Linked DNA regions of Homo sapiens: region 2 is linked to region 1. Evidence: fine-mapped expression QTL. A gene starts in region 1. The other region holds a variant in brackets. All regions are shown on one strand. Distances are between the middles of the regions.

The links.
Region 2: its variant is fine-mapped to the expression of ELOVL5 in whole blood (TOPMed, PIP above 0.99).

Annotation. Positions count from the first base shown.
Region 1 is chr6:53,340,960-53,357,611 of GRCh38, reverse strand. It overlaps ELOVL5 (ELOVL fatty acid elongase 5), which reads left to right and starts at 8,662. Exons shown (of 8, transcript NM_021814.5): 1 at 8,662-8,795. It also overlaps the pseudogene RPL31P28. RefSeq lists a silencer at 8,822-9,261.
Region 2 is chr6:53,234,730-53,251,381 of GRCh38, reverse strand. LOC124901332 (a long non-coding RNA gene) reads left to right here. Exons shown (of 4, transcript XR_007059612.1): 2 at 5,770-5,841; 3 at 6,951-7,111; 4 at 7,238-7,337. It also overlaps the pseudogene HMGB1P20. Among named protein-coding and RNA genes, the nearest start is that of MIR5685, 34 kb to the left of the region's middle. The variant G/A (reference allele first, on the strand shown) is at 7,898.

The DNA.
Region 1 (16,652 bases):
CAAAATCTAGTGGTTTGGAACAACATTTTTTGCCTCAAAGTTTCTGCAGATGAGGAATTGGGGCATTGTTTGCCTTAGCAGGGTTCTCTACCTCAGGATTTCTCACAGACCGCAGTCAAGGTATCCACTGGGCCTGGAGTAATCGCAAGACTTTTCTGGGGAAGGATCCACTTCCAAGTTCACTCATGTGGTGATTGGCAGGATTAGTTCCTCAAGGGCTGTTAGATTCAGAACCTCAGTTCCCAGCTCCCTGTGGACAGGAGACCAACCTTAGTTCCTTGACATGTAGACAGTTCCATAGCACCTTCCTTCATCAAAGTACACAAAGCCAAGAAGTTACAGAGGGAGTGCCAATAAGATAGAGGTCACACCTTCTTTTCTAACAATCTAGGAGGCGACATTCCATCATTTTTGCCATGTTCTGTTATGAACAAGTTACTAGGTCCAACCCACCAGCATGAATATCAGGCGGCAAAGATTATTGGAGCCACGTCAGAATCTGCCTATCTTGTCATTAAAGTACAATAAACTGTGATATGAATTGGGGGCTCCAACATTTTTTTCTTGCACATCCTGAAACAGCCTGTGTCTTATTTGCTATCTTTATCATAAGGAAAGTAAATGGTTTTCTGGGAGTCTAGCTCAATAAACATTTATTGAATGCCTACTATGTACCTGTCACAGCATGCTTGAGGTGCAAAGATGAATGACACATATTCTTCACTTGACTTGGGGAGGAGAGGCAATAAGCAAACAATTACAATATTAATATTATAAATGATAAAAAGCCTGCACAGAATGCTTTGGTCATGGGGAAAGAAGGAAGGAACATATTGTTCTAAGTCACATTCAAGGAAGTAAAAGAGGTCAGGGTAGGTGAAGAGAAAAATAAAAAGATCATGTTTAGATTAAGACTCAGTAAAGGCCAGGTATGGTGGCTTATGTCTGTAATCCCAGCACTTTTGGAGGCCGAGGTGGGCAGATTACCTGAGGTCAGGAGTTCAAGACCAGCCTGGCCAACGTGGTGAAACCCCATCTCTACCAGAAATACAAAAATTAGCCAGGCGTGGTAGCTCACACCTGTAGTCCCAGCTACTCGGGAGGCTGAGGCACAAGAACCACTTGAACCCAGCAGGTGTGGGTTGCAGTGAGCTGAGATCACACCATTGCACTCCAGCCTGGGCAACAGAGTGAGACTCGGTCTCCAAACAAACAAACAAACAACAACAACAACAAAATTCAGTAGAAGTTGGCCAGGCGTCATAGCTAGGCCTGTAATTCCAGCACTTTGGGAGGATAAGGCAGGTGGATCCCTTGACCTCAGGAGTTTGAGGCCAGCCTTGCCAACGTTTTCTACTAAAAATACAAAAAAAAAAAAAAAAGTTGGGCACAGTGGAATACACCTGTGGTGCCAGCTCTACAAGAGGCTGAGGTGGGAGAATCACTTGAGCCTGGAGGGTGGAGGCTATAGTGAGCCAAAATGGTGCCACTGCACCACAGCCTGGATGATAGAATGACAACCTGTCTCAGAAAAAAAAAAAAAAAAAGGTAGTTAATCTTATGCATCAATAAGATGCAAAAGTATTAACATATTGTATTCTGTATTTTCTAGACTTTAAACCATCTAAAATTGTCCCAATTTTATGCTCATAGGGTATTTGAAAACTTTTACATTTTATACCCTAATTCATTCTATTGAAATACATCTTATAGAGAAGACTGTAACAGTCAAAGCATGTCATTTAACCATTCAGATTAGAAGGCAACACTGCAATGCTATTTAACTCAAAAGAGAATTGACTGAGTGAACTTGACACAAAGGGGTATATGAATTTGGGAAGAAAAAAGTGCTTTACAATCAAAGGCCAAGAAATAGTTTTCAAAAATAATTAAATTGCAACACAAACTTGTAGAATTTCATTTGAGTCTTAACATCCCACATTCACTCTTGGCAAAAAGTGAATTTGAGACTGTGAAAATAAATTATACTACCAGTTTTTGACATGCAAAATCATGTCTAATATTGCAGGTGGACAAAAGCATGGCCTTTTATGACACATTATACTGAGAACTAAAACATCACACAACTTGGAATGACTAATTCACTTATGGCTAAGTTTTAAAAAACTTTTGTTTTACAAAAGATAGAATTAGCACAAAGCATATTCCGTACTGTATCACCGGCTCCAAAAAATCTCATAGAGCACTTTCAGAACATACTACTTAACAAGAACATACTCCTTAACAATAGAAACCACATCGCTGTTCTTGGTCAGTTGTTCACAGGTACTTTTTTGGCTAAAAGTTTATTTATCTTATGCTTTTGTTCACATCCTGGAAATCTTTAGCTATTTAATATGTTACAGAATAAAATAAATCAATTATGAAATGTATCTTTTAATAACCAGCAAAGTAAAGACACATTGACCATCTATCTTAGATTAAAATCTTATCTTCAGCATATCTTAGCATATGAAGAAGTTGAGAACCGAGACTTTTTTTTTTGCAGTTTTATACCTTTATTTGATGTATTTGAGGATCAGCAATTAGTTCTCATGCACATGGACTGTCTGCACATTTTTGAAAGTGCTAACAGGTACATAGGTAACCAAAGTATAGCGCTTATTTGGTGAATCTTCATCCTCATTACGTTTTCTGGACAACTGCACACGGATTCGGTACGGGACATTCCTTATTCCTTTGGCGCAGAGAGCTTTGTTGAACCTGCTATCAATGCGCACACTTAGAGTTTCCACCTCTTTGATGGCAAATTTCGGAATCTCTCTGAGTGCCCGAGGGGCACGCTTCTTGAAGCGCACTCCATGGATGCGCTTGTGAATGTTGATGGTGTATTCTTGGATCACCACCTCATTGATGGCAGAATGACCCTTTGCTTCTCGCCACCCTTCTTTGCAGGAGCCGTTCTGCCGCGTCCAAGTTGGAAAGGGAGAACTGATACTTGAATTTAAATTCTAATTCTGCACTAACTGGCTGTGCAGCCTTGGTCATGTCATTTAACTCTTCTGTGGCTCAATTTGTTTGTCTCATTATAATGTTGGAAGCATAAGGGAAAGAATTGTTACGAACCTGGATTCATCACTGAAATAAATATAACAGTTTTTATGTCAAGAGAAAGTGCTTGATATTCAAGATAACTGATGCATGCATAGAAAGGGTAAGATATCCCAAATTCATAGCAATTTCAGACTAAATAATGTTTTGTTTTCATTAAAAGTATAGTTACAGTCTTTTTAATAGCACTTTAAAAATGTTAAATATTCCTTTGGAGCATGTTAATTTTTCACATTTTAAAATTTCAGAAAGGCAAAAGGAGAAATTTGTTGTATCTACTGTAACAGGGAACAGAAAAATTATACTCAGATAATATTTTTAAAACTATTGTAGTTAGTGTTTTCTTTCTCTTTGACTTAATTTTTAGTCAAATGATACCTAGTAAAAACATATATTATTGACTTGCATTTCAATTTTACATTAATTCATTTGTTCCTTTACCAATTCAGTAAATATTTGTTGAGCTCCTACCAAGTGCCAGGTAGTGTTCGAAGTGCTGGGGAAACAGTGGTGAAGAGAACAAAGTCTGTGTCCTCAATGAGCTTATGGGGCTGTGGGGATAATACACAAATATTAAAAAGTAAATCTATACTATGCCAGAATGTTAAGTGCTAAGGAGAAACATAAAGTGTTCCAGAGTGTGAAAGGCAGGGAGGGAGGTGTTGCAAATTTAAAGGGAGTGATCCAGGGGAACTCCCTAAGGAAATGACAGTGATGTAGCAACCAGCATGAAGCAAGGATGTAAGTCTTGGAGATTTCTGGGTTAGATTATTCTAGGCATGAGGTAAAGAGTAAATGCAAAGGCCCTGACGCAGTCTAGTACTTGGTGTGCTCAAGATATTTCTTGGGGCCATTGTGGGTGGAAGACAGAGTAGCTGTTTAAAGTCAGAGAAATGGCAAGTTGCAAAATCATGAAGGATCTTATAGGCCATTGTAAAGATTTTGACTTTTACTATCAGGGAGATGAGAAATTGCTAGATGACATTGAGCAGACATGTGACGTGATTTGGCTTTGGTTTTAAAAGGATCACTCTGGCACCTGGTTTGGGAATAGACTGTAGGCAGCAAAGACAGAAGTAGAGGTCTGGTTAGAAGACCATTACAACATTCTAGGCAATGGTTGATAGTGACTTAAACCAGGTGGTCATGTTGGAGATGGTAAAAAGCAAACACATTCTGGATATGTTTCAAAGGTCAAGTAGTAGAGTGTTGCTGATGCACTGGATGTAGTAGGTGAGAAAAAAAGAGGAGCTAAAGGTAACTCCAAGGTGTCTGATCTGAGAAACGGGGTCCATAGAATTGTCATTTACAAATCTGGGGACTACTGTGGAAGATCAGGTTTGAAGGCCAGTTAAGAGTTCATTTTTTGTTATGCTTAATTTGAGATGTCTTTTGGATATCTCATTTATGAATATATCTCATTTAGAGAAGTCATTAATAAGTAGTTAAGTACGTAAGTCTGGAAATCAGGGAAAATGTGTGGGCTGGAGAAATACACTTGGAAGTCAGCCGACCATAGATGAAATCCAAACACATGAAAGGGGATGATATCACCTGCAAAGGAAATGTGGATACAGAAGACTGGGATGCAGATCTCTTTCATTGCCCAGTCACTTCTGGAGACAGTACTAAAGAGTGTAAAAGGAAGTGGAGAAGAAAATCTAGAGAATCCAGAAATTGTACAAATTGTTCATTCATTAATCGAATATTTATGAACATTTGTGATTTGCCAGAAATTCTGCTAGTCATTAAGAAAACAATATAGCAGACCAGGCATGGGCAGTGTCTTCAAGTAGTTCATGTTCATCAAGATGAACACTCAAGGACAAGGACAGAGATAAACTGCAGGACATATTGTTGAACAGCAATGAAGAAAAGGAATAGCAAAGTAACAATTGAAGTATGGAACTGACTCCAAGGTCTGAGGAGGACAAGAAACTGCCTTTAATCTACCTCTGCCTCCGACAAAGACAAGCCAGGTGGCCTGTGGGAATTCTGGGCAGCAAGATAATAGAAAACACAAATTAGAACAGAAGAAAAAAGGATTGTGGGGGGAGGCGGAGAACGTAGGAACCAACAGAGACTGCAGTGTCATCTTTAGCATAAAATAGCTGCTACTTGACCTATATTTTAGTCAACTTTGATATGTCCAGAGGCAAACATTGGCTTATATCTTTTCTGGAAGGATGTGTTTCATTATGTCATGCAAATACGTCCTAATGAAACAAGTTTCACTAATCAGAATTGTATTCTAATGAAAGTTCCAATTGTATTTTTTAATTCAACTGCAGCTGCTATAACAATAAAACAAATTGCCTAGGATGTTAAGTACTTTCCTTTTCAAAAGCAATACTGAAGCAACCTTCTAATACACTTAGAAGTGTGTGGTTTGAGGAGATTTGAGCTCAATGATGAAAACTAAGAGCAAAAGGAAAAATATTACCAGAATTTAAAAACAAATAGAAGGCCAGGCACAGTGGCTCACGCCTGTAATCCCAGCACTTTAGGGGGCCGAGGTGGGTGGATCACCTGAGTTCGGGAGTTCAAGACCAGCCTGGCCAACATGGCGAAACTCCATCTCTACTAAAAATACAAAAAAATTAGCCAGGTGTGGTGGCGGGCGCTCCCAGCTACTTGGGAGGCTGAGGCAGGAGAATTGCTTGAACCTGGGAGGTGGAGGTTGCAATGAGCCAAGATCGTGCCATTGCACCCCAGCCTGAGCAACAAGAGCGAAACTCCATCTCAAAAATAAATAAATAAATAAATAAATAAATACATGAAGGAGAAAGAAGAAAATATTAATAGTTAGCTATTGAATGAAGATAATTCAACAATCATTTCTTGGGGGACTACCATGTGGATGCTATGAACAAACAGGTAATAGTTACAAGGTTTTGTTAACTGTACCTTACATGGGCTCACATTGTTGGATAGGTGGGTTAGAAGGGCAAGGATGGCTTCAGCACAGTTTCCAGAACCCAGCTGGCCAGGAATCTGATTCTGATGCTACCTAAAACAGGTTCCTTGAGCCCTGTTATTTAGTAAGCCTGGCATTGGATCCTAGGTATTCTTTTGATTTATTTGGAAAAAATCCCACAGTTAAGTTGGGGAGTCGTTTCGGCTCCACTGTTTTTCTTACAGCTTTACTCATGAGTGCAATGATGCAGAAATACGAAGTAATTGTTAGGGTGGGAGGAAGTTTCCCCCAGAGATATATGACACATGATAAACATTACATTGTAATATGTAAAATAATACATTTGCATATATATATATGTTCTGAGAACTCTAAGTCTCTGGCTGGAGAACTAATGAGAACATGACCGTACCAACATGTTTGAGAGGAGTTAATAATCTAATAATCCTGGGATGTGACTATCTGACAGAGGATTGGAACTCTGGAGCTGAAAAGTGATGGTGATGGTGAGGGGGAGTAACTGTTCACAGATTCACTCATCTAACACGTATTTATTGAGCCCTTATATGCCAGGGATTGTACTAAGATCTACAGATCAATAAGGAGCAAAATTCAACATGTTTTCCCCTTCAACGGAGTTTACTACCTAAAGCGGTGGTCTTTAAAGTGGGGTACATATACCCCAAGGATTGAGTGAGATGATGCCATCAGAAAGCAACTACAATACAGGGTGGTGATGCTATAATGGAAACCAAGATACACACATCAACAAAGAACTGTGTAAAAACGCAGCCTTTGGGGGATGGGAAAAAACAGCAAAACGTCATACTTAATCATACAATAAGAAAAATCACTTGATATTTAATGCATAGCTTGACAGTTATATAAGCCTGAACTTAAAGATATTTTGGTCAAATGGGCTTAAAACATTTTATTGATAGGTAAGCACAATTCAAACAAGTGCGGCGTAAAACTTAAGACTTTTGGAATCTCAAGTTAAATTAGAAACTTTTAAAACCTGGAAAGGCAAAACTTAGATGGGATGACAGAGATGAACCCTGGCCTTGGACTACTGGCAGAAGCGTGAAGAATGAAGGAGATATCTCAAAAAAATAGTCTATGCCACCAGCATATGCTTTTCTCATGTCCCTTGATGTCCATAGCAGCATTTACCACTCTGCATTGTAGTTGCTTCCTGACTGTATCATTTTCCAGGCCCAAGAAGTCCTTGAAGGTTTCAAATTTTGAATACCTAACATAGTATCTAGCAAATTGAAGTCATTCAGTGTTTGTGGAGCTCAATGGCAACTGACAATCTCGATTCTTTGTATATGTTTAATTTACTTAATTTGTACATGGTTTGTATACTTGCATTCCTATTGCAATGGCCCACTGCCTGGAACACAGCTGGCACGTGATAAGCATTACATTGTAAATATGTAAAAGAATAAATTTGCCGGCCAGGCTCGGTGACTCACGTCTGTAATCCCAGCACTTTGGCAAGCTGAGGCGAGCGGATTACCTGAGGTCAGGAGTTCGAGACCAGCCTGGCCAACATGGCGAAACCTCATCTCTACTAAAAATACAAAAATTAGTCGGGTGTGGTGGCGCGTGCCTGTAATTCCAGCTACTTGGGAGGCTGAGGCAGGAGAATCGCTTGAACCCGGAAGGTGGAGGTTGCAGTGAGCTGAGATCGCGCCACTGCACTCCAGCCTGGGCAACAGAGCGAGACTCTGTCTCAAAAAAGAAAAAAAAAGAAAAAAAAGAATAAATTTGCCTACATTAAATAGCCGACTGTTAGGTGGATGCACATAGAGGAGTAAGAATACAGCAAGAGGGGCACACGAAGAAAGGCTAAATCTCTGGGGTTTGAATGGGGAAACAGTAGGATACAAAGCTAATGAAGGTCTTTAATTATCCAAATATCAGTGAAAAACAGCAAGGATCTTCCGTTTATGCCCTGAACCCCCTTTGTCTTAAGTGCTTAAATATGCTTAGCTGAAAAGACACTGATTCCATCTTTCCTCATTTAACAATCCTTTAGAATAATTTCTAGAGTAGAAATGGAGTTGATAGTGGCTTCCAAAGAAAAATCAGAATCCCTAAGAAAAATACACGGTAAATCCTTTGCAAGGGAGTTATGGTTACAACAGTTTTGAGTCGTTTTGTTCTTGTTCCTTTATCTTGTTCAACTGCAGACCTTCACTCCGGCGGTCTCCGTGGGCATTTAACCCTTTCAGCTTTAACGATGAAGTGGATCCCCTTCAGCATGACATAACTCATAGAGGAGACCGTAACGAGGGTGGGCTTCTGCCACCCAAATGCGGCCACAGACTCCTGCCACGCCTGGCAGTAAAAAAACCAGAGTTCAGGGCATCGACAACTTCACCGGGGCTATTGCGCAGGCTCTGCGTTCCACGCAGGCTTATTAGGAAGAAAGGGGAAAAAAATTTCCCAGAGACACGTGGAACCGAGGGGCCAACCCCGGCCTAGGCTCTCCACCGCATCGGATTCTGGAATTTACGATCACGAAAGTTCTATTGTCCCGCGATTGGCTCCCGGGCCGCATGACATCATAGCGCTTGATTCATCCTTCGGGTCCCGATTGGCTGGCCGCGCCATTGTGACGTCACGGTCAGCCCACGTTCTGATTGTAGATAGCCGGCGCCTTCCTCTTCCCATCGCGCGGGTCCTAGCCACCGGTGTCTCCTTCTACATCCGCCTCTGCGCCGGCTGCCACCCGCGCTCCCTCCGCCGCCGCCGCCTTGCTGCTGCTCAAAGCTGCTGCCGCCCCTTGGGCTAAAAGGTAAAGCCGTCAGCTCCGGGAAACTTCGTCGGGGGCCGCCGCTCGGCCATGACACCCGCGCGAGCGCGCGGCCGGGAAGCGGTCAGAGAGAACTGCCGTTAGGTCTCGGACCTGGTGCCGAGAAAGAGCTGCCGGGGCAACCCGCGCTCCGCCCGCGGCCTCCAGCTCCGCCGGCTCCGGGGTACAGCCCGGCTCCTCGGGCGCGGGGAAAGGGGTGCGGGTGCGGGCGCGGGCGGCTCGCCCCACGCCGAGGCTGAGGCAGGGCGCTCGGGAGCGTTCTCTGTGCTGCGGTCCCACCTGTGCGCGCTGACAGGCGCCGCGGGGCACGACACCGTGCCCACACCAGACGCGGAGGGATGGATCTGTCCGCCTGGGTCCTCCCGCCCTGCGGGCCGGAGCGCGCGGCGGGAGAGCCGGGGGAGCGCTCTCGGAGGGAGCGCGCTTTCTTTGGAGTCGGCGAAACCCGGGTGAGTTCGAAGAGCCTGTGCGAGGGTCTGCGGGCACCGGGCGCCGCTGGGGGGACTCTCCGGCCTTTCCTTTTTGTCCTGTTCTCTCCGCTTCCGTTAACCCTGCGGACCTTCCGTCCGCCCCTCGGAGGGAAGCCTGCTAGCTCGGGACCGCTTCAGTTTTTATTGAAACCAGACAACGGCAGCCCTTGGTACTCAGGGAGGGATGAGGCTGGTGGGAAAGCGAGAGGGCGGGGACTCGGGGGCGACCGGGGCGGCCCTTTCTGGGAGCCTGATCCCTGGAGAGGCGGGAGCGGTTGGCTGCGAGGGAGGCGCGCGGCGGGGGGGCGGTTGTGCTCTGCGCCGGGGGAGCTAGAGTGTGTGTTGTCTTGCGAGTTGTAAGGAAAAGTGCCTTTTTACTGTTTCCACGCCGGTAAGACTCTCCCACCCCACCACCTCGGGTCGACGGAGCAATGCCTAGAGCAAGAGTTGTTCTTGCTGAACTGCGTCTTGCAACCGTTCCGTGTTCTTGCACTTGGCGGTTCCCCCCGCCCCATCCACAATTGTGAATTAAGCTCCTTGATTGCAAATTTGGAGAATGCATTTGGCCAGTTATGCAAAGTGGCGGAGGTGGCGGGGTCGGGGGCGGGGGGTCTCTTTCGGAAGAATCCAGTGCATGGTTTATTAGCTAGACTGAGGAACCGAGAGGTGCTAGATGGGATTTGTGGGGAGCGAGCAGCCTAATTTGTTTTAAATAGCGGGACCCGTGGCAGGAAGTGCTTCATAGAATTGTACGGAAGAGCTGATGTTGCTTGTCAGGTTTTGTAACTCATTCTCCTAACCGCTTGGCAGATAACCTGTTGGTCTGCACTTGTTTTGCTTGCACGTCTCAGCCAAAAGCATTTCGTGCAGAATCTACAGATAGAAACAGGCGGTTTTGCATTAGATGGCCGTGGACAAACATTTTAGCCTTCCATCTGTGATTGGGGACAAGTGGGTTACTTTTCTGGTAGCTCAGACACTGCCTGGGATTCTCCAGGAAAGCTCTGCACTTGAAAGGGAAATGTTACTCATTTTCCTTTTAGATTTTTACCCTAGATTCTAACTTCTTATTGCCAGGAACTTTTTCTGTACTGTTTCTCTTTTTGCATTTTCGTTTCTATTTCTAATTGAAGACAAAGGGGAAATTTTTATTGATAGTTACAGATAGGTAATGTTACAGAATGTAGTACAGAACTTTGCTGAAAAGCGACAGTAGAAGGCTTACTAAAATTTGATGTTTTTCAAGAAAAATATCTTGTAACTTCAGATATTGACCTCACCTCCTTGACTCAATTTCCTTGTCTATACATGGGGATTTTATGTGGCAGGATCATTGTGGATTTCAAGAGATAATGCAAATGAGAGCCCAGCATTGAGTCTGCCAAATGGTGGTTTGAAAATGTTTCCTTCCCATTCCCTGAAATCAACAGCTTCTTCTTGGTTACAGACCTTAATTTTTGGATGTTCTGTTTGCAAGAATCTTTTTTTCCACTACCTCTTCTTTTGCTCCCTGCATAATGGTTGCTTGTCTTCCTGCTTCTAGAGGTGAGCATCCATCCTTGGGTGTCTTATTTCCAGCTTGAATTACACAAATCAAAGCAAAACTGTTTACTTTTCTTGAGGGTAACTTTGGTGCCTAGGTGGGTAGTTAGTGTGAAGAGAGAGTTTTACCTCTTGCTTTCCTGGCTACATTCTTCTCTCCTAAAAGATTTTGTAATTTTTTTTTTTAATTCCTCCTCTTTGCCTACCAGCTCTTCTGTTATCAAAAGGCTAATCCTCTCATTAGTTACCTGTAAATAAGTCTTTCCTTGAATGCTTTCTGTGTCAGGTACTTATTAATACGCACATGTACATAAACGGTTGCTTTCCACACGTAATTCTTATAACACCTCTGTGAGGTTTTATCCCCCAGTTGTTTTTTAAGAATTGAGGAGCACTATGAAGACACATGCACACGTATGTTTATTGCAGCACCATTTACAATAGCAAAGACTTGGAACCAACTCAAATGCCCATCAATGATAGACTGGATAAAGAAAATGTGGCACATATACACCATGGAATACTATGCAGCCATAAAAAAGATGAGTTCGTGTCTTTTGCAGGGACATGGATGAAGCTGGAAACCATCATCCTCAGCAGACTAACACAGGAACAGAAAACCAAACACTGCATATTCTCACTCATAAGTGGGAGTCGAACAGTGAGAACACATGGACACAGGGAGGGAAACATCACACACCCGGGCCTATCGGGTGGTGGGGGGCAAGGGGAGGGAGAGCATTAGGACAAATTCCTAATGCACGCAGGGCTTAAAACCTAGATGATGGGTTGATAGGTGCAGGAAACCAGCATGGCACATGTATACCTATGTAACAAACATGCACGTTCAGCACATGTATCGCATAACTTAAAGTGGAAGAAAAATAAAAAAGAATCTCTAGGATTAAGGCCTAGAGATGACAAGTGACTTGTCCAAATTCCTATAGCTCTGTCTCCTGCAACATCTCTGCTCCTTCATATATCCCTGTGCTGCCAGGATTATTTGCCCAGTGGGCTCTGTGCCATTATGTAACACTGTTACTCCACAACTTAAAAATCTAACCTTGTGTTTAAAGGTTCTTGTTAATCCATCCAAGACTAACAATTTATTGTCTCTTAAATCTGTCTAAAATCTGTTCCCTTCCTTGTAGCCCACACTTGATTCATTTTTTAAATTAATTCATTGACTTCTCAGTTACTGATTTTGGGTGTGAGGGGCTGGATACAAAAATGAATTACAACAGTTCCTGATTCCAGAGGGTTTCCTGATTTAGTATATACTTTAAGCCTGTATACACATACTTAATCTACACCTTGGACCAAAAGAGAGTCAGAAGCAGATTTCTGGGACACTTATATCTTTATATCTGAGAAAGCTTTATGGCAGAGCTATCCATGTTAAGGGCCTAGCATTCCTGAATTGGTCAGGATGCTTTTGGTGCAAGAAACAGAAAACCCAACTGAGACCTACCTGTGCATCTGACCTGAAAAGTCCTGAGGGCAGGACTTTTGCTCCATTTCTCTGAAGTCCCCTCAGATGTCTGTTATGTCCTAGACTGATTTTCCAAGATGACTGACAGCAGCTGCCACCATAATCTCACATGGGGATTCCCTGACTTCCTGCCACCCTCCAAAGAGTCCTTTACCTTAAGGTGATTGACTTAGGCCTTGGTTACTTGAAGCAATAACTGGAACAGTGGACATTTGATAAGCTGGGGGCCCATCCCAGAACCAGGGAAGTGAAGTTAAATCTCCTCAGCTAGCTGCTTCACCTTTAAGAAGGGCCTGCAGAACACAGGAAGTCAGCTACAGCGTCTGTTTTAAGGACCGAATGGATGATTGGATTAAACTAAATTGACTTGAATTAAAATTAGAATTTAGCCTTACATTTTGTAAAGGACTCTTAGTTGATAGGCAGGAATAGGAGGACATGCGTTCTAGGCAAGAGGGAGTTTGGAGAGTAAGCGAGTGTGGAATCATTGGGCAAAAAGCAAATAGCACAATTGGCAGAAGCTGGTTTAGAAGGCAGGAGTGGAAGAAAAGGTGAGAAAGGCAAGTTATTGATGTAATAATAATGGCTAACTCTTACTGAGCTATTGTATGTCAGACCTTGCACTGAGCCCCTCACAAGGACTTATTTCTATTATTAATGGATGCTACAGCATTCCCATTTTACAGGTGGAAAAAGGCCCAGAGTTTAGACACTTGATTTGGGGTCACAAAGCATTCCAGCTCAGATCACCTTGACACCCTGGCCTGCTCCGTCTCCTAAGGTGTTTGGTAGAATACCACCAATAAGCTTTTGAATAAGAATGAGGACATTATGAGTGCTGTGCTCCAGAAAGACAGTCTTGTTAGAGTGTAGGGTGGATTGTTGTGGGTTTGTTAGAGATGGCCAGGGCAGTGAAAAGGCCTGACCTGAAGCCACAGCCATGAGCACAGACTTGAGAGAGGTAATTGTGAGAGACTGTGTCCAGGATAAGACTTGAAGACCAGTTGGATTTGAGGGCCAGCAAGAGGAGGGATACTCTTCCAAAGAGAAGAGGGAGCTTTGTGATCAGATGGAAATAGCCCCACAGCCTAGATAGATATCCAGACTAGCTGTTTCTTCCAATTCCTCCTCTTCACGGCCAACCTTTGTCTTAGCTATTTTTTTGGTTGCCTTTCTGCAAGAACATGTTTCTACCACATTTCATCTATTGTCAGCTTTTCACATTTCACATCTGGGTAGAGATGGAGCTTATAATCAGTGGCATCTTAAAATCACTGCAGGTAACTTTCCACATTTTAATATTACAGAATTGGGATGCCTCCTACACTTTTCCCTGGTGAGAAAAGGAAAGCCCCAATGTTACCAAAGGTGGTGCAGCCAGATGCTGGCAGAGCCAGGCTTCTGGGCTTCTTCCACCAGCTGGGTTACCTCTGCTCCCATGATAGTTATTAAAACACATGTAGCTTCACGTTACAGGTTTATAGTAAAGTACATACATGTTTGTGTGTTTATTAAAACTGAAGTAATTTGAGAAGATTGGAAGGCATGATTGTTTAAGTAGGGTGCCTCATTCTTGTATAGAATCTGGCTGCCTTGGTTTCTTGTCCTAACTTGAAGAAAATCAACTCTGAGCATTGGTCTCTTTTCCTTTAAAATGAAAGATTAAATTTTATTTTCATTTTTGCCTAGAGCAAATTTTATTTTTTATTTTTGTTTTGTTTCTGTTTGGCCAGGGATAGAGAATGAAAGTGAGATCATTTAGATCTTAGAAAGGTAGATGTTGGCTGGGCACGGTGGCTCACACCTGTAATCCCAGCACTTTGGGAAGCCATGGTGGGCAGATCATTTGAGCTCAGGAGTTTGCAACCAGCCTGGGCAATATGGCAAGACCCCATCTGTACAAAAAATACAAAAATTAGCTGGATGTGGTGGTACATGCCTGTAGTCCCAGCTCCTTGGGAGGCTGAGGTGGGAGGATGACTTCAGTCCAGGAGGCGGAGGTTACAGTGAGCCGTGATTACACCACTGCACTCCGGCCTGGGTGACAGAGCCAGACTCTGTCCCAAAATAAATAAAGAAAGAAGGAAAGGAGGGAGGGAGGGAGGGAAAATGTCAGAACAGTTGATGGAGATTGCAGCAGCAGCAGCAAGCTGCTGGTTTTCTCTTTATGAGATTAAAACATCACTGCTGGAGATGTTCTGGCCTATCCTGACCTGATTTTCAGTTTCTGCAATAGGAACCCTCACCACCAACCCCAGTTTCAACCCGTAAATGTTATTACCAGCCTTTTTGGTTCCCACTGGCGTGTTTGCTCCATGGTAACATTTTTAGTGGACTTGTAGGCATTCACTTTTAGAATTGTGTAGTCTCTGGATTTAAAATATTCATACTTGGTGACCTTTTAGAAAGACTAAATTCCCACTCTTGCTCCTCCATCCTCTTCTGCCAGTTCTGTGTGAAGTACAGTTGTAATTGCATTCAGGCATGAGTATGTCTTAGTATTCCTTATTATTAGATTGGACTTTTTTACCTTTTATTTGATGTCTGCTGGCTGACTGGGATTTAGGGAAAAATTTCTGATTTATTTTAAGATTTTTAGTGCTGATACTGGCATGCTTTCTCTAATTGGGAGAATAACAATTTTATTGAAATATACCTGTGATTTTAAACTGTAATCTTTATGGTTATATTAGGTAGGCACCCTCTTGCGAGCACAGGTTCCATCTCTGTTAAGTTCCACATTTACCCCATCCTTTTCCTCATGTCAACAATTTCATCCTGTCAGAATTAATCTCTTATAAGCCCATGCTGAACAGACCTAATTGAAGCCATGCTGGCGAATTGGCCACTCAGGTCTGTGTTTTATGAGTTTCTGAACCCCAGAGTAGTACTTGTTCCTCTTTGGTCTTGGCACAGCAAATGCTACAACAAAGTGAGTGTTATGAATTTCTCCTTCCCTGAAGAATAGTTCTCATGATACCAAATTCAGTAATTATTCATTTGCTTCCAGGGGAGTTTGAAATGTGATGTATCTCCCTAGGGGTAGTATTCAGGGTACTTCTGCTTCAGTCTTTGGCAGAAGAAATAATACTTCAATATTTACAGAAGTCGTTGACGCCTCCATCAGCTGTATTTGTTAGAAGCATCTGTGTGAAAATTTGAGTTTGCTTCTGTCCGAACTTCTGCATATTAATCTCTGTGATGGATCTGAGGTGCATTTAAAAGAATACCTCCTGTACTTCTTTTAAGTAAGGACAGCTGTGGGAAGCAGATTGGGTTGGCAGCCTGCACCTATGCGGGGTTCCACCTCTGCCACTTAACAGCTGCGTGGGCTTCAGCAGGTAAGTCACTCTACCTCCTTGAGACCCTAGAATCTATGTAGAACTTGGAAGGTGATAATCCTGTGCCTACTTTGGAGGGTATTAAAACTATCAGTATTGTACATGAAAGTTAGGTGGGGCACTGACTTAATTTAATTAGCATAGTAAAAACGTCTCTCTGTTATATAGGATGTTTATTGAAGCATTGTTTCTAATAGCAAAAGATTGGAAGAGTTAGTAGACTAAATGTCCTTGAAAAGAATAAATCATGCTACAGCTGGGCAACGGAATATTCTGCAAATTTTAAAGAGAACAAAGCTGTTCTATGGGTACTGAATATAGCTGCTTGGTACCACATAATAGGCACTTTTCTGAAGTGTTCAACATGTATTAATTCATTGTGGCTTCACAAAAGCCCACGAGGTAGGGACCCCAATTTTACAGATGAGGAAACTAAGATAAAGGTTAAGTCACTTGTCCAAATATCCACAGCTAGTAGGTGGCAGAGGCAGGATTCAAACCCAGGCAGATTGGCTTAAAGACTCTAATCTTGGCCACCCTGCTGTGCTGTACACCTGTCAGACCTAAGTAGTGATCTTTGTATTTGCAGCTTTAGATACATGAGAGGAAACAAGGTTGAGTTTCTTATTCATCGTTACATTCTGGGAGGCTGACGGTATAATCAACATATAGCTTCTGTTGACAGTAACTAAATAAAGGTTTAGATAAAGAAAGCTAATAGGGAATAACATTTATGATCAATACTTGAAAGGGTGACCGTTTGTTTCTTCCATTACTCCTTATTTTAGATATTTTGAACTTAAACCTCTTTTTTGGGGAAAATCAGAAGCGTACACACTGAATAGCTTACAATTGTTAGTGTAAGAAATCAGTGTTCAAAAGCCCAGTTGAGTCAGTGTTCACTAGCCTGACTGGTCTAGTGTGGCTGGATTAGTATGACTGGCCAAGGGCATCCAGCATTGGTTTCCTTACCCGGTCCTAGCCCCATCTGGTT
Region 2 (16,652 bases), 110 kb after region 1:
TCGCCATGGAGAAAATTGTTTACAGTCACCAAAACACTCAATGTTTCCACCTGTAAAATGGGGTGTAGATTTAGTTTGAAAGAAAAGAAATAAAGGATAACAAAATAAAAGTAACCACCTCATCCAGAACCCCCATACACACACACTTACACAAAAACACACACACAGTCTTTGGGCTGGCCAGCAGATAAAGAACAATCTCTTCTAGTCCCCAGTAGACTGGACAAAGATAGACAAGGAAAGAAATCCTGTCTAAGTCATACTATTACCAGAGTCTAGACTTCACGTTCTGATAGTTTAATGAGCTCAGAGAACATATTTTAAGTCTTAAGAAAACAAACTTATTTCTGACTTTATAAAGGTTTCTCCTGGGAGAAGAAACTAACAAAAAATCATTCTGATTGCTGTCCTTCTCCAAAGACCGTTTCCCAAGATTTCTGATTCGTTTGGCAACATCTGCAAATAAACCCAAATGACCCAGAGGCAAAATAGCTGCAAAGAACTGTATGTGACTAAGCATGGCTAAAATGTTTCTTTATAGCAAGGAAAGTTTTCCCTTGGTCTTCTGAGTTAGATAAATGGTTGATTATAATTTATGTATCACTTCTGAGGGGTGGTACAGAGCTGAAGGTTGAGGGGGCAAGTGCTAAAATATTTGAACCACCGTTTAAGTAGGGGGCCAAAGAACACAGAACTATCAACCCGGAACCACCAAGAATAGGGCTTGTCTGTAACAGCTCCATATGTGACCAGGCAGCGAGGCTTCAGCCTGTGCTTCAAGTAGGTCTTACCGTCACACAGATCTAGGTTCAGATCCCAGCTCAGCCACTTGCTAGCCATGTGGCCTCAGGCAAGCTGCTTGCTCCATTTGAACCTCAATTTCCTCATCTGTAAATTGGGGTAAATAATCACGCCAATCTTATGAGGCTGTTGTGAGATTCAAATGAGATAATGCTTGTAAAAGGGGCTTCACAGAGGGCCTGGCACATAGTTATTAGTCACTGTTAAATGACATGGTAAATGCTCATGGTTATTAGTCACTGTTATCATCAGCCCTAGTGCCTGTGGCTGCAGTAACAAATTGCCACAAACTTGGTGCTTAAAACAACAGATACCTATTATTTCACAGTCCCAGAGGCCAGAAATCCAATATCAAGCTATGGGCAGGGCCTATTCCCTCCGAAGGCTATAACTTGACTCTCATTCTTGGCCTGTGGCTGCATCACTCCAGTCTCTGCCCCTGTAATCATATGGCCTTCTCCTCTTCTCCGACTCCCCTCTGTCTCTTATAAAATCACTTGTCATTGAATTTAGGGCCCACACAGATAATCCAACATGAGCTTATCTCAAGATTCCTAATTTAACACATCTGTAAAGACTCTTTTTCCAAAAAAAGGTTGTATTTATAAGTTCCAGGGATTCGAATGTGGACATTCTAATGGGAGACACCATTCAATCCACTATAGTAATATTTGTATGGTTATTTAGCAAGGGGTGCAGCATTGGCCTTCAAGGACTAGGGTAGGGGGTCCTGGACCCTCACTTTAGAAGGTCCTCGGTCACTTCACATTCACCATTGGCTCAGTGCAACTTGTAACCCTGAACACCAGTCATGACTAACATCATTTAGGTGCCAGGGGACCTCTAAATCTTCTGCCCCGTGTTCTCCAAACAAAAGGTAATGACATCCAGAGCTGTGATGGTTTGTAGGTTGTACTTCTGCTGGCATCAGACACAGACACTGCCTTGGGGAGTGAGGAGAACTGGGGTAACAGGAGCTCCTTGGTAAGAGGAAAGACAGCTCTCCAAAATCTTCCTCTCAGCCTGAATGCAAGAGTCTTGTTTCCCTTCATGTTCCAATTTAAGATTCTGGAGTTACTCATCAATTAGCACAATATTCACAACAGTTCATGTTAGTCTTTAGTCTTTTTTTTTTTTTTTTTTTTTTTGAGACGGAGTCTCACTCTGTCACCCAGGCTGGAGAACAATGGCACGATCTTGGCTCACTGCAACCTCCACCTCTTGAGTTCAAGTGATTCTCCAGCCTCAGCCTCCTGAGTAGCTGGGACCACAGGTGCATGCCACCATGCCTGGCTAATTTTTGTATTTTTAGTAGAGACGGGGTTTCACTACGTTGGCCAGGCTGGTCTCAAACTCCTGACCTCATGATCCGCCTCCCAAAGTGCTGGGATTACAGGCGTGAGCCACCGTGCCCAGCCTTCATGTTAGTCTTAAAGGTGTGTATATGTAGGTCTGCACATGTAAGCATGAAACGTGATAGCAACCCTTCACAAAACTATATAGGTATAGATTTTTAAGACATTATTATAAGAAATCTTGAAAATCATTATGTAAGTGATAGTAATTTATGGGATGAAATTAAACTATTTTGTGATAGTCCCTGTGATAATGGCAATATACCATATGCAACCCAATTATAATGACTGACATAAAATTCATGATTCATTTCCAAATGGAAGGGTTGCTTTAAGAATTTTAATGACAATTGCAATTGCTACTGCCTCTGCCGAGCAGCTTCTAATGGAAACTTGAAAAAATGAAAAGAAAAACTAAGATTCAAGAAAGGTAATCTAATTAGGTATTACTGTTAATAGAACACAAATTATGTGAAAATATTGATTATAACAACATAATTGTAATTTTCCTGAAATGAAAGCAAGAAACATTAATTTTATGGATAAATATATAATGCATGAATTGTATATGTCTTCAGTATGCATTCACACATGTCAGCCCATTAACAGAACACCTACAGGCATGTAATAATGAAGTCCAGTTATTTCTTCTTGTTTTTGCAAACTTTCAGTCATATAAAAACCGTAAATTTCACTTTTCCCCCATTTTCTTGCTATGAAAGTATATTTGACAAAGTACAAAGATGGAAGAAAGTTTATTTAAATATTAGACATTTGCTGGGCGTGGTGGCTAATCCTTGTAATCCCAGCATTTTGGGAGGCCAAGATGAGAGGATTGTTGGAACCCAAGAGGTTGAGGCTGCAGTGAGCTGTGATTGCGCCACTGCACTCCAGCCTGGGTGACAGAGCAAGACCCTGTCTCAAAAGAAACAAAATTAGACAGTTGTTGTGTAGGTCTCCATTCACACTCTCACCCTCTGCAACTCTGCAATGTTAGGGTTAGTCTGACCCTATGGTTCAAGGTCTCCAACTATAACGTGGACACATCTGCACTTAATGGGCGTTTTCTTGACTTAGAATCTTTCTCTGTCCTTTGGCTGCATGATACCTTCCTTGCCCTTGTAGAAAGAGGGCTAACATGTCTAGTCTTCCAAGGTCATCAAAGGAAGATTTTTCTACAACATCCAGTGCATAGGAATTTATGCAGCAGATCATGATTTACTTTATAGAACACATCCCCTGAACTAGATGCAGTTAATAGCCTTGGGCCATTAGTGTTTGAACCTTAGAAGGAATTTTAGAGGTCTGCCCTCACTTGCAAAAGTGCAGTGCTCTTGTTGATCACCTAGGTCCTAAATTTATCAATGAATATGCTCATCAGGCCAGATGCACAGAAGCGACTTTGCACAGTCTCTCCTAGCTGTCCATTTTGCTTTTTTCTCCTTTAGAATATTCTTAAGCCACCTTACACTCATTCCTACAGAATCAATTGCCTTTGTTTCTCACCATGTGTCATACTAAAATTCTAATCCTGCTGGTAAGAAAGTTTAGTACCCCTCAGAGCTCGGAGGCCCCATATGTCATGTCTGCCCCTCAAGGTTTACATGAGTAAGCCTCTGCCTCACAGGCTATGTAAGATGTAGTGTGCATGGTGGAGGCTTGCTCCCATAGGAACTCTGCAGGTACTCACTATGGGGGCGCTGACACGCAGCTCTGCGCTCCCAGCTAGGGTTGGAGATAAGGTGCCATCCACTCTCCTAGCCTAGCCCCACTCCTGATCCTCCCTGAGGGGACATTCTTTCCTAATTCATCCAGCCAGAGATGCACCTTTTCTAATTCTCCTAACGGCACTTGTAAAGGCTGGAGGTGGCACTACTTGCATCCAAGTCTCTCCACCATCCTTGTTTCCTCCCTCCTCTACAAATCAGGGGTCAGGAGGACAGACAGTGAACCTAGATGAAGTGAAACAACCATGTAAGATAATAGGTTCCAAGCTGTTTATATTGCAAGCAAGCATATCCCCTGCCCAGGTGAATTGCCTTTTGAAACCTGTGCTTGCATAACAAATGGAAAACAACCAGAGTGCAACCCCTGAACGAATTAGACTTGAGCTCTTCTGACCTGGATCCTGCCCTGGCCAAGTTACAGGCCAGTATGCAAACCAGCTGGATGCTCTTGGTGGCTCCCAGCCAGCCCACCAGCTCCAGCAACAGGCCCCTTACAAGGTTCCCTCGGTTTTTGTGTCCTTGCAGCCTCAAAGACTCTTTCCAGGCTTGCAGGCTCCCCCTTTTTGGTGTGTTGTGTCCCCTTACCTATTCTTTCAGTGTATACCAGTGGTTCCCAACTGGGGTGATTTTTGTCTCCTCCCCCTGGGGACATTTGACAAGGCCTGGAGACATTTTTTGTTGTCACATCCTGGGGCAGGGTGCCACTGCATCAGATGGGTGGAGTCCGGGGATGCTGCTAACCTGCCTACAATGCACGGGACACCCACACAACAAATAATTATGTGGTTCACAATGACAACAGGACCAGGACTGAGAAATTCTTATTGCACACCCTCTGCCTGGATCCTTTTACTTGCATGTGATTCTTACTCTTTTATTGACCTTTGGACTAATACTTCACCACCCTTTGTCCCAAGCCTAATTCTCACCTGGATGTAGATGTCATGTTCCTTTTTATTCCACATCCTGAAGCCACTAAGCAAAGGCACGGGTGCCTTCACCTCACCAGGTTCCTATACATTCTTCAAACACTGGAGCTCTGCAATTATTTCAGGCCATTCTGTGGCTCTTCCTACCACCTCCACACCTGAAAGTCAAGCAGCGCCTGTAGGATCAATCTGGTTAATGCTGATACATTCTCGGTTTTTAAATAGTGTGATTTTAGACTTTTAGTTCTATTGGTGAAGGTACAATATATAATAGAAAGAAACTCCAACAATCCCATACTAAACCTTTGCCCTTTGCTCGGGCTCTTAAAGGATTCACGTGCTTCCAGCTCGTAACTAGTGTTGTCCTACTTTTGCTTGTATTGTAATTGATCTCCTTTCTTGGGTTTTTTTTTCTTTTCTTTTCTCACATAAACCTTCTCTACCTTTTGTACTGCTTGTCTCACATACTATTAAGCCTAATTTGAATTTTTTGTTATAGTCTTCAGTTTCCCAACACTGTTTATACTTCTTTAAACAATAGATTTCATCTGCATGGTAGACAGAATGCCCATGAGTCCCAAGATGTCCATGTCCTAATTCCTAGAACTTGTAGATATGTTACCTTATATGGCAAAGGGGACTTTGCAGATGTGATGAGATGGGGGGATTATCCTAAATTATCTAGGTGAGCTTAATAGAATGCATGAGCCCTTAAAAGGGGAGAACCAGGCCTGGTGTGGTGGCTCACACCTGTGCTCCCAGCACTTTGGGAGGCCAAGGCAGGCGGATCACCTGAGGTCAGGAGTTCAAGACCAGCCTGGCCAACATGTCAAAACCCCGAGAGTCCATCTCCAGTGTTTGAGACGGGGTTTCACTCTGTCGCCCAACAGGAGGGCATATATCCTCTATCTCCCATTACCAAAGATTGATTCAGGCATCCCTTCTTGATCTTTCTAGGAGCTGTGAAGTTGCAGAATTTTGGTTTATTGGGATGCATCCTGGTGCTTGCCTACAGATCTTGTTTTGCAAGTAAGAACAGAAGACTCTGGCCGGGCGTGGTAGATTATGTCTGTAATCCCAGCACTTTGGGAGGCCAAGGGGGGGCGGATCACCTGAGGTCAGGAATTCAAGACAAGCCTGGCCAACATGGCGAAACCCCATCTCTACTAAAAATACAAAAATCAGCCAGGTGTGGTAGCACGCACCTGTAATCCCAGCTAGTCTGGAGGCTGAGACAGGAGAATCACTTGAACCCGGGAGGCAGAGGTTGCAGTAAGCCGAGATCGCACCACTGCACTCCAGCCTGGGTGACTCTGTCTCACAGAAAAAAAAAAAAAAAAAAACCACAGGAGACTCTAGGGAGGCCACCAGGCCTGTCAAGGTTGCATGGTTCTCAGGTGGCAGGCTGGTATCACACCCCCCGCCCTGACTCACAAACTGTTCCTATTTTCATTTCCTTCCCCTTAAAAAAAGTAGAACTATCTCACTGATGTAAGAAGAACATACTTGGCTTTTTTTCTCGTAAGGAGTCTTAAAAAACACACTGATAGTTGACACTGTATATATCAAGGTTTTCTGGCAAAAATTTCCATGGAATGTAGTTCAGAGAGATGCTCCAGAAAAATTTTTAAAAAGCCTCTGTGGTCAAATAAGCTTGGAAAATGCAGTATGTTTGTTCCTGCCTTGGAATGTCATCACATACATAAGCTTAATAAAACTTCTCAGAAGTCTATAGTAAAGAAGTTCTAGTTCAGTTTTCCCTTTTCATATAACACCCATTAGCAGGAGGCAAGAAATGCTAGTACAGAAGTGGCTTCATGTCTTTTCTCTGTCCCTTTCACTTGTTGCGTGGCTGGTTTAGCACTGTAGGTGGCTCTGGCCTGAGTACGCAATGTGACCCTTTGGGAGTCAAGCAGGTGAGTGCATCCCAGAGCCTGCTGATTACCACCCATTCTTCCTTCCTTTCTCATCGACGGGAACCCCATTTTATGTGGGTCAATGAGTGCTGAGGCTCCCTTGAAGCTTGGTGTGGCCATGTGACATAGTTCTAACCCATGAGATGGGAACAGAAGTCTCTAGAGGGACTTTCAGAAAAGCTCATACATGCATTTTTCTTCATCATTCATTTTCCTGCCTAGAGTGCAGAGGCAATACATGGAGATGCAGCAGCCATCTTGTGACCATGAGGACAAAGATCATTTACCAAGGATGACAGAAGAGAAAGTTAGCAAGAGCCTTGACCCCTGATGAGGTGAAGTCATTTCACCAGCCTATCACAGCTTCTAGTCTTCTTGGGAATGTAAGAAAAACAAACTGTTATTTGCTTAAGCTCTTATAGCTAAGTTTCTGTTCCGTGCAGCTATTATTCTAATCAAAATAATGTTTCAGTGTTTATTCCTGAATATCACATAATTTTGCTCTGTAGGTGTCATCTTGGCTTTCTTTATGAATGGCAATTACTGGCTGGGTGCGGTGGCTGAGATGGGTGGATCACTTGAGGTCAGGAGTTCGAGACCAGCCTGGCCAACATGGTAAAACCCTGTCTCTACTAAAAATACAAAAAAATTAGCCAGGTGTGGTGCCACATGCCTGTAATCGCAGCTACTTTGGAGGCTGAGGTAGGAGAATCACTTGAACCCAGGAGGCGGAAGTTGCACTGAGCCAAGATATCACCATTGCACTCCACCCTGGGCAACAAGAGTGAAACTCTGTCTCAAAAAAAAAAAAAAAGAAAAAGAAAAGAGAAAAGAAAAGAAAAGAAAGGCAATTACTGGATAGGGTCTAAGAAGTTTACAAAGCAGGCCAGCAACAGCATCAAGTCATTCAAGTCAGTGTTTCTCAATGTGGCCCCCAGACCAGCAGCCTCAGCACCACCTGGGAACGTATTAGAAGTGCACATCCTCCGACCTCGCCCTAGACCTGCTGAACCTGAGACTCCAGGGGTGGGGCCCAGCAACTGGTGTTTCAGCAAGCCCTCCTGGTGCTCCTTACATACGAACTTTTTAGAACCATTTTAGAACTTAGTTTAGAACTAACATTTTAGAATTTAGTTACACATTCAACCTCAATGAATTTGTAAACCCAC[G/A]AAAGGTCACTTTGAATGAAATAGTTGAGTTTGAACAGCAAGACTCATGCCCACACCTAACAACAGAGCACAGGCTTTGTGAGAAAAGGTGTCTGGCTTTGCCTTGGAAATTCAAACTGAGATAGAAGTACTATAAAGGGGCCAGGTGTGGTGGCTCACGCCTGTAATCCCAGCACTTTGGGAGGCCGAGGTGGGCGGATCACGAGGTCAGGAGATCGAGACCTTCCTGGTTAACACGGTGAAACCCCGTCTCTACTAAAAATACAAAAAATTAGCCAGGCATGGTGGCATGTGCCTGTAGTCCCAGCTACTCGGGAGGCTGAGGCAGGAGAATCGCTTGAACCCAGGAGGTGGAGGTTGCAGTGAGCAGAAGGAGCAACTCTGTCTCAAAAAAAAAAAAAAAGTACTATGAAGGTAACAGTGACAGAAATGGAAGCTACCACCACTTAAAGAGTGTGGTTAATTGTGGTTCATGTCAAGGTACCAAGAGGCTAGTGTTGCAATTTTCTTTTCTCTACACTTTGCTTTGCTTTGAGATGGAGTCTCACTCGGCTGCCCAGGCTGGAGTGCGGTGGTGTGATCTCAGCTCACTGCAACCTTTGCCACCTGGACTCAAGCGATTCTCCTGCCTCGGTCTCCCGAGTAGCTGGGATTACAGGCGTGCGCCACCACACCTGGCTAATTTTTGTATTTTTAGTAGAGACATGGTTTCACTATGTTGCCCAAGCAGGAGTCTTGAACTCCTGACCTCAATTAATCTGCCCACCTCATTCTCCCAAAGTGCTGGGATTACAAGCATGAGCCACTGCTCCCAGCCAGTATTGCAATTTTCACAGGAGGCTTTCACTTTACCTTTTCTTAATAACATACTGTTCCCTTGCCTCCAACTTGGTTCACTGGATAGAGTATATAGATAAGATTTGTACAAATCTCAGCAATTTAAGAATTTGCAAATGTGCATAGGAGTGAAGACAAGGTAAGAGTGCGATTAGAAATGCTCAGTGTGGCTGGAAATGTAATGAGCATGCTTTATTCTCACTCTCAACTTGAGATCTCCAAACTCACTCTATTCCATCCCACGGTATCTGCTTTCTCCTTTCTATTAAGCAACCAACCATTACTGAGCATTCTCGATTTTCCAAGGAAGGTGCTCATATATTTTTGGTGAATCCCATGAAGCCCATATTTGTAGCGGACATATGCTGTAATCCCAGAAGCAGAAGGGACCTGGTCCTCCTTTCTCCACTCTCCCCACACTGTGGAAGCTTCAGGGCACAGAGGCGATTGAGAGTTGCTCAGCAGCAGTGGTGCTGAGCATTTAGCTCTGGCCACAATATCCGGTGGCCAGTGCAGTTGATGTCAACATCAGTTTCCCAACCAGACCAACCCTGAGGCTTTGCCCTGCATGACTTTCCCTGCTCCCTGAGCTCCCTTAGGTTCTGCTAAGCCTGGTTCTATAGCCTTCCCTTCTATTGTGTGAATTGTCCAAAACTGATTCAATAAATTCCTCTTTTGCCTAAGCAAGCCAGAGTCACTTTCTGTTCGCTTTCAACTTAGAAGTCAAAGTAACATAATATTATTGCCATCTTTTTTAAGTGAAGACACTGACATTTGGAGGTCAAGGAACTTGCCAGATGTGTAATACCCAGCCTCCAAGATGGCCCCCAGTGATCTTCACCTCTTAGGTATTTATTTGCATAGTCTACTCCCATGTTGAATTAGGACTGGTCTGTGTAGAGTTCAGCAGGGATAATATGTGACTTCTGAATTGAGAGCATAAAGGACTTTGCAGCATCTGTCTTGCTCTCTTGGATTGCTTACTCTGGGCAAAGCCAGCACCATGCTGTGAGAATGTATTTACCATGTCTTTTATTTTTGTATTTTTATGCCTGTCCCAGGACTAGCCAGTTTTTAGAAATAGCAAACAACCATGAGGGTGCGTCACAAATGTAAACCAATCAATCCAGAGCCCACACACTGCCACCTCCATTATGGGCTCTCACCCTCCAGGCCACTATCCACCTGCCCTAATCACCCCAGGAGTAGGAACTAGGCAACTAGGGATAGCCCGTATGGCCCAGAGCCTGCTGAAATGATTCAAACTATTCAATCCAAAGCCCAATTACCCTCCCTCACTCATTCCTTCCCACAGAAACCACAATAAAAGTTTGTGCCCCTGGCCAGGCGCGGTGGGTCACGCCTGTAATCCCAGCACTTTGGGAGGCCAGGGCGGGCAGATCACAAGTTCAGGAGAATGAGACTACCCTGGCTAACACAGTGAAACCCCGTTTCTACTAAAAATACAAAAAATTAGCTGGGTATGGTGGCACACACCTGTAGTCCCAGCTACTCGGGAAGTTGAGGCAGGAGAATCACTTGAACTCAGGAGACAGAGGTTGCAGTGAGCCAAGATCTCACCACTGCACTCTAGCATGGCAATAGAGCGAGACTCCATCTCAAAAAAAAAAAGTTTGTGCCCCTGTTTTCACTCTGCTCCCTCTGCCTCCTGACTGATCTTGGTACTTCCCCATGTGGCTGGTGTGACACACCCCTTCCTCTTGAGATCTGTGAGCATAACAAACTATCTTTTTATTAGCAGTCATTCCTGATCTGATGGCTTTGCCATACCTAAATATTAATAAAACCTATATTTTAAACAGAGAACACTCAAGTACCATGTGGTGAAGCCCATATGGAGAGGAACTGAGGCCTCCCACCACAGCCAGCCCCCATTGGCCAGCCAAGTGAGTGGGCCTCCTTGGAAGCAGACCCACCAGCCCCAGTTGAACCTTCAGATTAGGGCAGCCCCAGCCCACACCCATCTGCAGTCTCATGAGAGGAGAGAATCTAAGCCAGACTTCCCATTCAAAAAGATCCAAAATTTGCAACCTACAGAAACAGAGACAATACATGCTTATTGTTATTTCAAGCCACTAAATTTTGAAGTAATTTGTTCCTCAGTAATGGCTTCTAAGTGGAGGAACTGATTCCTCCACTAACCCCACTTGGGGTTTCTTGTTGCCTCTCCAGTGTGCCAGTGTGAAAAATAGCAAGATACCTTGGGCTTCTGACTCAAACAGTAAGAAAAAAATTGTAATTTCACATAACAAGAATTCAAGATGTAGAGAGCATCTAGGGTAGATTAACAAAGCAGCCCAGTGATCTCACTCAGGCCCCAGATGATTCTCTTCATTTCTCTGCTCACTCAGCCTGTCAGCTGATCATTCTCTTTTTCAAAAGATGGCAGCAGCATTGCAAGCATCTCATACAGACAGCGCAGTTGAGCGCTGTTATTGGTTTAGACCAATGGGAGCACAGTTATTGGTTTAGACCGATTATCAATGGGAGTGCAGTGATTGGCTTAGGCCAATAACCAATGGGAGCATAGTGATCAGTTTTCCTTTGGGGATGAAGCTTAAGAGTTCTTCACTTGATCACATAGGGCTGGGGACACCCTTGAACAAAATCCAGGTTCTGGCAACAAGGAAAACCTATGCACAAGGGTTGGGGTGACGAATGACTTAGGTACATTATCTTCTATATAAGCCATCAAGGGGCCAGCTGCACTAGCGAGAAGGGCAATAGAGGCCCAGAGAAGGTGTCGGGAAAGCAGAAGAGTCGGGGCAGGTAGGTCAGGGCCAGTTGGAGGGCCTTGGGCTTTACACACAGAATGAATAACCTGAATGAGTCATTACCTAAACCACTGTTCCTTCACTCCATTCTCCCTCCTGAGAATGGGTTATGCACCTGCTCACACATGTGACTGTTCTTTCACATCACCAGTTTGGGTTGGGATGACATGACCCAGCTGCCTCCAGAAGCCTCCCAGCCAATGGACCCAGAGCAGGCTGTGGGCAAATCAGTCAGGTGGTGGCTGCTGATTGGAATTCATCCACATTCTCAGGGTGGAGAGCAGCAGATGTGTGCAGCCTCCTCCCCTATGGAGGGGATGCTATTTGTTTAAATGGTGGTTGGTGATGCCAGAAACACTTGGCCTCATTTATCTGGATATAGAATAATCCAGCACAAATAGATCAGTAGTAGTAGTACAGCAGCGATAGTAGCCCAACCCTTTTACTTTGTAGACATAGAAAACCAAGTTCATGTTGAAGTGACTTGGCCAGGATCACAAAGACCAAACTAGAACTAAGACTGAGTCTTAAGACTCTTGCTTTGATTCTGTTTCTCATTATACCTTGTAGGAAAAGTTTCTATGCCAAATTCTAGGCCAGATCTATAACGTCATTTTTCTGAGAAACAAAACTGCTTTAGGTAAGTTGTTCTAATAGTTCCTCAAGTTCATCTGAAATCTACTAATTATGTTTGATATGGAGACTTATTTTTAATGTTGTGTAATTAGACTTGCAAGTTCCACCCTTAAAACTTTTTATCTGTTGTTTACCAACACAGGCCAAGATTCCAGCTAATAATATTTTCAACCACTTTTGTCATTCTCCAATAAATTACATAGAAAATTGTCAAGAGTAATTCCTGGCCGGTCATGGTGGCTCACACCTGTAATCTCAGCACTTTGGGAGGCCTAGGCAGGCAGATCACGAGGTCAGGAGTTTGGGACCAGCCTGACCAACATGGTGATACCCCATCTCTACTAAAAATACAAACAAACAAACAAAAAATTAGCCGGGCGTGGTGGTGCGCACCTGTAATCCCAGCTACTCAGGAGGCTGAGGCAGGAGAATCACTTGAACCCAGGAGGCAGAGGTTGCAGTGAGCCAAGATTGCGCCACTGCACTCCAGCCTGCACAACAAAGTGAGACTCTGTCTCAAAAAAAAGAAAAAGTAATTCCTTTCCAGTGACAGCAGAAATCAGAGACTTCAAGTCTCCAGTTCAAGTTCACTGGACTCATTACTTCAAAGGGAGTATAATAAGCTCCCTGAGATTATCTTTCTGAAGTAACTCTTTTCTGTCTATCAGCTGACTTGCAACTGATTGTGTACTTGACACAGATCCACATGACTCGGTGCAATGGGAATAGTCCAGCAGTTTTGAATTCTCAGATGATTTTCGCTCTTTGTTTCTTGTCTTGTTTGAAGAGATCAAAAGGGAGCTCTATCGCTGTGTGATAAGTATGTTTCTATCACTGTTTTCCATAGCTTTCCCTTCCAAGATCCATTATAACTTTGGAAATGTGGTGAAATGTGTCTTACCAGACTAAATCTGGTAAGGTTTAGTCTAGGGGTGTGTGTGTGTGTGTGTGTATGTGTGTGTGTGCATGCACGCATGCCCGCATGTATGCTAGGAGTAGGCAGAGTGGGGAAAGGAGGTAATGTGGGGGTTGCAATTGTAGCACTTGGATGAAAACATGGATGTTTAGCACACATCTACAATAAACATGATCTTCATTATTTTTAGTTAGCCACATTATTATTATACCCAGAAAAATAATTTTAAAAGCTTTCAAAGGTTAAAGAAATGATTCACAGCAGATAATCAGAATCTAAGTTGGCAGTCTGTTCAGTACCCATCACTACTTCTCCCACTAATTTTCAGATTGCCAACTTGCTATCAGTAAAACATTCTTAGTCAAGCAAACGATTTAACAATTATTTGTCCTCATCCACTTTTGCACACAGGTGAATAAGCTAATGTGGGCTGGAAACAAGATTAGAAACAAACTCTGATTAAACCATTCATTCATCAAATGTACATTAAACACTTACTATCCGACAGGTTTTGTATTACGAGAAAAGAAACAGTAAACAGGAGGCTGGGTGCAGTCACTCGCACCTGTAATCCCAGTACTTTGGGAGGCCAAGGTGGGTGGATCACCTGAGGTCAGGAGTTCGAGACCAGCCTGACCAACATGGTGAAACCCTATCTCTACTAAAAATACAAAAATTAGCCGGGTGTGGTGGCACATGCCTGTAATCCCAGCTACTTGGGAGGCTGAGGCAGGAGAATCGCTTGAACCAGGGAGATGGAGGCTGCAGTGAGCTGAGATCGCACCACTGCACTCCAGCCCGGGTGACAGAGCGAGACTCTCTCAACAACAACAACAACAAGAAACAGTAAACAGGAAAAGAAAAAAGGTTTCCATTCAGTAGAACCCTGTGCTGGAGTCCTGGACAGCATGCATGGCCACACACTGGCGAGGCACCAGTCTTGGTGTGAGCAAGGAGACAGTGCAGGAAAGCCTTCAGGAGGAGGTGATGTCGGAACTAAATGTGGAAGGACAGGTGAGAGTAGACAGACATGGAGGTAAAGGGAACAGGAGAAAGAAAGGCTTGGAGGTGTGAGGCGGGAGCGTGCATGTCAAGGACCTCACAGTTAACATGGCGGGGGGCGGGGGTGGGGTCAGCGGGGGGAATGAGAAGGATGGAGGCAGAGGGTCGGGGGCTCATGCGGGGCTGGGTTGGCTTTGCCAGGAGATCAGACTAAATCCTGATAGCCGTGAGAGCTATTGTAGAAATAATTTCAAGCTGATCAGATTTATTTGGGTTTACTGTAGGAGGGAGGAGGCTGTTTTTGTGTATTTGTTTAATCTTTTTTGGACAAGCCTTAAGATTAGTAAAGGACTATACGAGGTCCTTAATATTGAAAGAGCCAATATATACCGTCATACATTCTTCCAACATTCTCGTTATTCACGTAGTGCATTCAGATAAATATATTCTCAACAAATATTTCCTTCATTTGTAACATCTAGGCAGAGGTGGGCAAGAGCAGATAAAAGAGATGGCAAACTTTGATGACCTTCTTTATATGCCTCAAGGCCTCACCACTGATATGTCATTGAGTATTTCACACTGGCTTCCTCTGACTCTTTTCATCAAGGTCTTAACAACCATTGTGTCAACATGTGACCTTATAAACTGTACACAAGGACCCTTTTTGGGACAACATGATCATGGGAGAGAAATCTCTCCCCTTGCCTCCCTCTTCCTACCCATCTGTGCTTCTGCCTGAAGTCATCGGTATTTCAGAGATTAAAACTGTTCTTTAGGTCTTAGCCACCAGTTTTTATTTGCATGAGCCATACCAAAGAAACTGAGAAATTGCTTTTGTGGCTTGTCTACTTGGAACTTTGAAAAGAATGAACAGTAACATTCTCAGTCAGATTCAGATTTCATGTAAAACCTGCTTTAGAGAACTGAAGGATAAGACATGCTTATTTACAACTTTTAAATTATTATCCTCTCGATAGAGACAGCACCAGGGAAAGTGAAAGCCAGACAGGCACTGGGCGACTCTGTGCCTCACTGAGGAAAAATTACTCAACATGAGCAAAGGAGATCCTAAGAAGCCAAGAGGCGAAATGTCATCGTACGCATTTTTGTGCAAACTTGTCAGGAGGAGCATAAGAAGAAGCATCCAGATGCTTAGGTCAACTTCTCAGAGTTTTCTAAGAAGTGCTTAGAGAGGTGGAAGACCATGTCTGCTAAAGAGAAAGGAAAATTTGAAGATACGGCAAAGGCGGACAAGGCCCATAATGAAAGAGAAATGAAAATCTATATCCCTTCTAAAGGGGAGACAAGAAAGAAGTTCAAGGATCCCAAGGCACCCAAGAGGCCTCCTTCAGCCTTTTTTTCTATTCTGTTCTGAGTATTGCCCAAAACATCCTGGCCTGTCCATTGGTGATGCTGCGAAGAGACTGGGAGAGATGTGGAATGACACTGCTGCAGGTGACAAGCAGCCTTAGGAGAAGAAGGCTGCAAAGCCGAAGGAAAAATGCGAAAAGGGTCTTGCTGCATATCGAGCTAAAGGAAAGCCTGATGCAGCAAAAAAGGGAGTTGTCAAGGCTGAAAAAAAGCAAGAAAAAGAGGAGGAAGCTGAGGAAAATGAAGAGGGTGAGGAGGGGGAAGATAAAGAGATGAAGATGAAGAAGACAATGATAATGAATAAGTTGGTTCTAGTTTTTTTTTTTCTTGTCTGTAAAGCATTTAGCCCGCCTGTACACAACTCACTCCTTTTAAAGAAAAAAAATGAAATGTAAGGCTGTGTAAAATTTGTTTTTAAACCATACATTCTATTTTTTTGTATAATTAACACATTACCGAAATGTTTCTTTAGATAGCGATGTCTTGGTGGTATTTTTTTCTTTTTATATTTTGAGACTGAGTCTCCTCTGTCACCCAGGCTGGAGTGCAATGGCACCATCTTGGCTCACTCCATCCTCTGCCTCCTGGGTTCAAGCGATTTCCCTGCTTCGGCCTCCTGAGTAGCTGGGATTACAGGCACACGCCACCATGCCCTGCTAGTATTTTCAATAACCACTAACCTTGCCTGGTAAAGTATGGGGGTTGTAAATTGGCATGAAAATTTCAAACAGGTTCTTTTTGGTGCACAGCGCAAATTAGTTATACATGGTGATGGTAGTTTTTTTCATCTTCAGTTGTCTCTGATGCAGCTTATACCAAATAATTGTTGTTCCATTAACTGAATACCACTCTATAATTGAAAAAAAAAGTTGCAGCTGTTTTGTTGACATTTTGTTGACATTCTGAATGCTTCTAAGTAAATACAAATTTTTTTCCTTTTTTTTTTTTTTTGAGACTGAGGTTTGCTCTTGTTGCCCAGGCTGGAGTGCAATGGTGCGATCTCAGCTCACCACAACCTCTGCCTCCCAGTTTCAAGTGATTCTCCTGCCTCAGCCTCCTCAGTAGCTGGGATTACAGGCATGCACCACCACGCCCAGCTAATTTTGTATTTTTAGTAGAGACGGGGTTTCTCCATATTGGTCAGGCTGGTCTTGAACTCCTGAACTCAGGTGATCCATCTGTCTCAGCCTCCCAA